Regions from separate parts of the Homo sapiens genome. Here region 1 is linked to region 2. The links come from fine-mapping of genetic effects on gene expression. A gene starts in region 2. The other region holds a variant in brackets. All regions are shown on one strand. Distances are from middle to middle.

The links. PIP is the estimated chance that this variant, and not a neighbour inherited with it, causes the effect.
Region 1: its variant is fine-mapped to the expression of LMNTD1 in testis (GTEx, PIP above 0.99).

The regions. Positions count from the first base shown.
Region 1 is chr12:25,685,444-25,688,363 of GRCh38, reverse strand. No RefSeq gene overlaps it. Among named protein-coding and RNA genes, the nearest start is that of LMNTD1, 130 kb to the right of the region's middle. The variant A/G (reference allele first, on the strand shown) is at 1,151.
Region 2 is chr12:25,552,123-25,555,042 of GRCh38, reverse strand. It overlaps LMNTD1 (lamin tail domain containing 1), which reads left to right and starts at 1,760. Exons shown (of 10, transcript NM_001145728.2): 1 at 1,760-1,974; 2 at 2,054-2,172. The coding sequence starts at 2,084.

The DNA.
Region 1 (2,920 bases), 130 kb before region 2:
TTAACAATCAGCTCTCTAACCCTCTTGCCTCTTCTCATTTGCTAAGTGAGCAGAGGGTGTGAAGTGTACCTTTAATGCCTCTAGCCTATCCTTTCCACCCCGTGACCTTTTCACCCATCTATTCCTCAAGGGGAGACTTCACTATGCTAATATGCCTTATGGGTCTCTGAGTAGGGAACCAAAGCAAACCGTGTTCCTGTTGTCTTTCTACCCAGTTATTTTTTTCTCCCACTATCTTTGAAGTAATGCGTGCTAAGGGATCATCTGATAACCATTTAAGGTGACAAAAATGTTGAGTCTCAAAGGAAAGGAACTGTGAAAGGACAGGCAAGGGCGTCAAGGATTTTATGTATGTACCCTCCTCAAATCATAGCACGACACATTGGCTTCCTGCTTTTAGTTTTAGTCTTGTTCCGTTAATCTAGAGCCACTGGAGTGAGATTTTCACAATGATCTTTTGAGGTAGCATGGCAGGTGCCTTTCATGCAGAAGCTTATAAAAACTTACAATTCTAACAGGTAGGTACTTGCTATACAAAAGAGGAAACATGGCTGGGCACAATGGCTCATGCCTGTAATCCCAGTGTGTCCGAAATTGGTGGGTTCTTGGTCTCACTGACTTCAAGAATGAAGCCGCAGACCCTCGTGGTGTGTGTTACAGTTCTTAAAAATGGTGTGTCCGGAATTTGTTCCTTCTGATGTTCGGACGTGTTCGGAGCTTCTTCCTTCTGGTGGGTTCATGGTCTCGCTGGCTTCAGGAGTGAAGCTGCAGGGACCTTCATGGTGAGTGTCACAGCTCTTCAGGCAGTGCATCTAGAGTTGTTCATTCCTCCCAGTGGGTTCGTGGTCTCGCTGGCCTCAGGAGTAAAACTGCAGATCTTCTCGGTGAGCGTTACAGCTCATAAACACGGTGCTAACCCAAAGACAGAACAGCAGCAAGATTTATTGCAAAGAGCAAAAAAACAAATCACCCACAGTGACAAGGGGACCCAAATGAGCTGCTGCTGGCTCAAGCAGCCTGCTTTTATTCCCTTATCTGACCCCACCCCCATCCTGCTGACTGGTCCATTTTACAGAGAGCTGATTGGTCCATTTTGACAGGGTGCTGATTGGTGCATTTACAATCCCTGAGCTAGACATAAAAGTTCTCC[A/G]AGTCCCCACCAGATTAGCTAGACACAGAGCACTGATTGGTGCATTTACAAAGCTTGAGCTAGACACAGAGTGCTGATTGGTGCATTTACAAACCTTGAGCTAGACACAGAGTGCTGATTGGTGCATTTACAAACCTTGAGCTAGACACAGAGTGCTGATTGGTGCGTTTAAAAACCTTGAGCTAGACACAGGGTGCTGATTGGTGTATTTACAATCCTTTAGCTAGGTCTAAAAGTTCTCCAAGTCCCCACCAGATTAGCTAGATACAGAGTGCTGATTGGTGCATCCACAAACCTTCAGGTAGACACAGGGTGCTGATTGGTGCATTTACAAACCTTTAGCTAGACATAAAACTTCTCCGAGTCCCCACCAGATTAGCTAGATACAGAGTGCTGATTGGTGCATCCACAAACCCTGAGCTAGACACAGAGTGCTGATTGGTGCATATACAATCCTCTGGCTAGACATAAAAGTTCTCCAAGTCCCCACCTGACTCAGGAGCCCAGCTGGCTTGGCCTAGTAAGTCGCCTGCCAGGGCTGCGGGCAGAGCTGCCCGCCAGTCCTGCACCACGCACCTGCACTCCTTAGCCCTTGGGCAGTCGATGGGACCTGGCCAGCGGAGCAGGGGACAGCGCCCATCAGGGAGGCTCGGGCCTTGCAGGAGCCCACTGCGGGGAGTGGGGGGCTCAGGCATGGCAGGCTGCAGATCCCCGAGCCCTGACCCGCAGGGAGGCGGCTGAGGCCCGGCGAGAATTCGAGCATGGCGCAGGCAGGCCAGCAGTGCTCAGGGAGCCGGTGCCCCCTTCCGCAGCTGCTGGCCCAGGTGCTAAGCCCCTCACTGCCTGGGGCCCGCAGTGCTGGCCGGCTGGCCGCTCAGAGCCCATTTAGCTGGAAATACTGTGTAGTTATGGTGTGTAAATGGGCAAAAAGAGACTAGTTAACAAAATATTATCAGGTTATAATTTTATACATAGTAATAATTGAGTCTTTCGTTACTTTACAGATCAGTACCAATGAGAGAGATTGACTCGTTTCCTAGGCTGACCACCCATCTCAGTTTGCAGGACTTTCAGTGCTAAAATTGAGAGATAATTTACTAAAAACTGATTATTTGCAAAGATTGTCACTAACACTCAGGTACCACATCTATGTGATCTTAACACGTTTTTAAAGTTCATTCAATACATTAAAGGAAAGTTCATTACACAGATTATCGATAGTGTAGTTTTGATGTAGAGTGAAGCATTCTTGTGCATTAGATGTTAATGGTATGGTTTGGGATCTATCAGAGACACAACAAATATTTATTCTTAGCAAGTCAGAGCAGAGGGCAGTGTTGTTAATCTGATATTCACCCCTTAGTAATATAGGCCTGGCCCAAGAATACCTGTGCCAATTCTACGGCTGATAGGATGGATCCACCAGGGAGGCAGAAAGCACCAAGATTCAAGGTTGTAGCTGCCTCCAGCAAATGGGCAGCCACCAAAGTCCATGATGCAAGTCTAGAGAGATTAACAGCCTGCATCCAGTTGGCTTGTGTAGAGGAATTAAGGTGCATGCAAAAGTAATTGTGGTTTTTGCGTTGTTGGAATTTGCCATTTTATATTAGAATACATTCTTAAATAAATGTGGTTAGGTTATACATCATTTTAATGGGCATGCCTCCCTTTATGATTTTTTGCTAATGGCTTATTACTTGCTTTTTATTTTATGTTTATTTTAGACTATGGAAATAATGTTAGAGAAAAAGCAAATTCAAGCGACTTCCT
Region 2 (2,920 bases):
CCCAAGCTGGAATGCAGTGGCACGATCTCAGCTCACTGCAACTCCACATCCCCGGTTCAAGCGATTCTCCTGCCTTAGCCTCCAGAGTAGCTGGGATTACAGGCACCCGCCACCACACCCAGCTGATTTTTGTATTTTTTTAGTAGAGACGGGGTTTCATCATGTTGGCCAGACTGGTCTTGAACTCCTGACCTCAAGTAATTCACTCCCTTTGGCCTCCCAAAGTGCTGGGATTACAGGTGGGAACCACTGTGCCTGGCCAGATAATTGTAATCTATTTTTCACCTGCATGAATGCCTAGAAAGGCACGTGTCATGTGGGAACACTATTTACTAAGTAGGATTATCTGCCACATTGTGGAAAGTCTAGCATCTCTGGGTTCTGTCTACCAAATGCCACTAATACCCGACCCGAATCTTTAATGACTACTATCAACATCCTCTTACATTTACAAAATGCTCTCTATGGTTCACTTTGGCCCCTGTTGAAAACCACTAAATTAGTTTAAGCAACAACAAAAGAGGAAATTGGTTTTCATTGCATATATACAGTAATTTAAGAAAAGGAAATAAGAAAAATGTCTACTATGGGGAATGAGTATTGAAACACTCACAACTTCAAAGCCTTCAAAAGTTTTTCTCAGCTGACAGAATTTTATTTCTCCAAAATATGTTGGAAAATATGAGCAGGCTCTCTGATAAAACCAATGAGGTCATAACGACTTTATGCTAATATATGCAGTTCAAGTAGAGAAATTTTTAACAGCTAGAAAGCCATCCAGACTGGTACAGGTAGGGAGACTGGGAGAGTGACAAGAAATGACAAGCCCATTTTTAATTCTTTACTAAGCGTAAGTAAAAATTTATAAACCTTCTGATGCTATATTTACATAATTGGCCCATAATGTTCATAAGGAATTGTGCTTCATCTCTGAGAGGGAGGAAATACGGTCAAACGTTTACTTCCTTTTAACTTACCTTATTACGTGTTACACGTCTTGACTTTTTCTTTTTGGCTTTTTAAGACAGTTACTTTATTGTCTTTAAAAATCATTTTCAAATCTATATTAGAAGATATTTTAGTATTATTTCTGAAAGCAGGTATTGTTTATTCATGGTACCTAGCCAGTTTTTAAGAAATAGTAGAATCTTATTAACTATTTTTAATAAGCTTACTCATCCAGTAATCATCATTTATATATCTTATTACTGTATATAATCATGTACTTTCATAGTTATTAATTTTATTGCCATACTATCATTATCATGAAACATTAAGTGTGAGTGTTTTACACAGAGGAGAAACTGAATTAAGTGATTTCTTCTAAATCATACTGCTGGCATAACTAGGAGAAGAATTTAGGTGTTCTGGCTTTGATTTTATGATTTCTACCAATAGACTTCTTTTTGCATTGAAGTTTTATGGTTTCTATTCTTGCTGCCTAGCTGTTTCCATGTGCTCAAAGTATTTGTCCAGAGAGAGAGAAAGAAAAAAAAGAAGAAAAGAGTTGTGATTAATTTCCCCAGTATGTACATACTGGCCTTGACTCTTAGAAATACAAAACAAGATATCAATAATTTTGGTGGCAAAGTCTAGTGGAAGATATGGCTTTCCTAAGAGCAAATTACTTTATTTAATGTCTGCAAACTGCAAAGAAGGTACAGCATCAACATAGGAATTGTTCAGAAACTGGAACTTGGTTACTATGGAGACATTACCTCATAGTTCTAAGAGGCAGTGTTGGCCAGAAGCAACAACTGTAGTCATAAAGGTCTCTTTGCCAAGTTACTGCCCTCTCAAGCTGCTTCCAGTGAATGCTACACACCTGCACCATGGTTTGTCCGACATCCTTAGCCAAGATCAGGATTGGCTATGTTGGTACTTACATATCCTCATGAGAATTGTGGTTCTGGTACTAGTTTGGTAAAGAAATTATTAAACCTAGCTGATGCTTGAAGGTAGTTGGATTAACAGGTGAGGTCACTTTGAAAAGAAAAATCTGCCTTGAACCTCAGCCATATTCGTCATCTGATGTCATGATCTGCTTTCCTAGGAAAGAAAAGAGACTTCTTTTCTAGCCAAGATGAAAGATACACAAGACATTCAGGAAGCTTCGAAGGCAATGCAGAATAAAGTCCATGAGCAGGAAGATAAGAATGAGAAACAAAAACAGTGAGCATGCATAGATGCGATGGAAGCAGAGTTAGAGCTGAGTTATAGAGGAGGAATGATGGCATGCTTGACCTCTTTTGTTTCAATACTCTTATGAACCAGTTAGAACTAGAATATATCTCACAAATTTTCTAGAAATAATGGACTGTAGCATACAACTACTTCCACAACTACTGTTTTAGAAGGTTCTAGTCCTTGAGAAGTATAAAAATCCACCTGGACAGATCTCCATAGTATAAGACCTAGCTGAGATTCCAGCCAAAGTTCCGTTTTTTTTTTTTTTTTTTTTCAGACAGAGTGCAGTGGCGCGATCTTGGCTCACTGTAAGCTCCGCCTCCCGGTTTCACGCCATTCTCTTGCCTCAGCCTCTCGGAGTAGCTAGGACTACAGGCGCCCGCCACCACGCCCGGCTAATTTTTTGTATTTTTAGTAGAGACGAGGTTTCACCGTGGTCTTGATCTCCTGACCTCGTGATCTGCCCGCGTCGGCCTCCCAAAGTGCTGGGATTACAAGCGTGAGCCACCGCGCCTGGCCTCCAAAGTTCCCATTTAATATGTTAAGTCAATTTACAGAAATAGTTTCTTTCTAGAACTATTTTACAGAACTGGGGACAAAAAAATTACCAGAATATTGGTTTTGGAAATGTCCGTAAGAATGTTATATAAAATTATAATCCCTATTTTTACATTTAATATAAATCATTCATCAACTAAAGCATTACCATTGGTTTTCCAATGTTTTCTTTAAA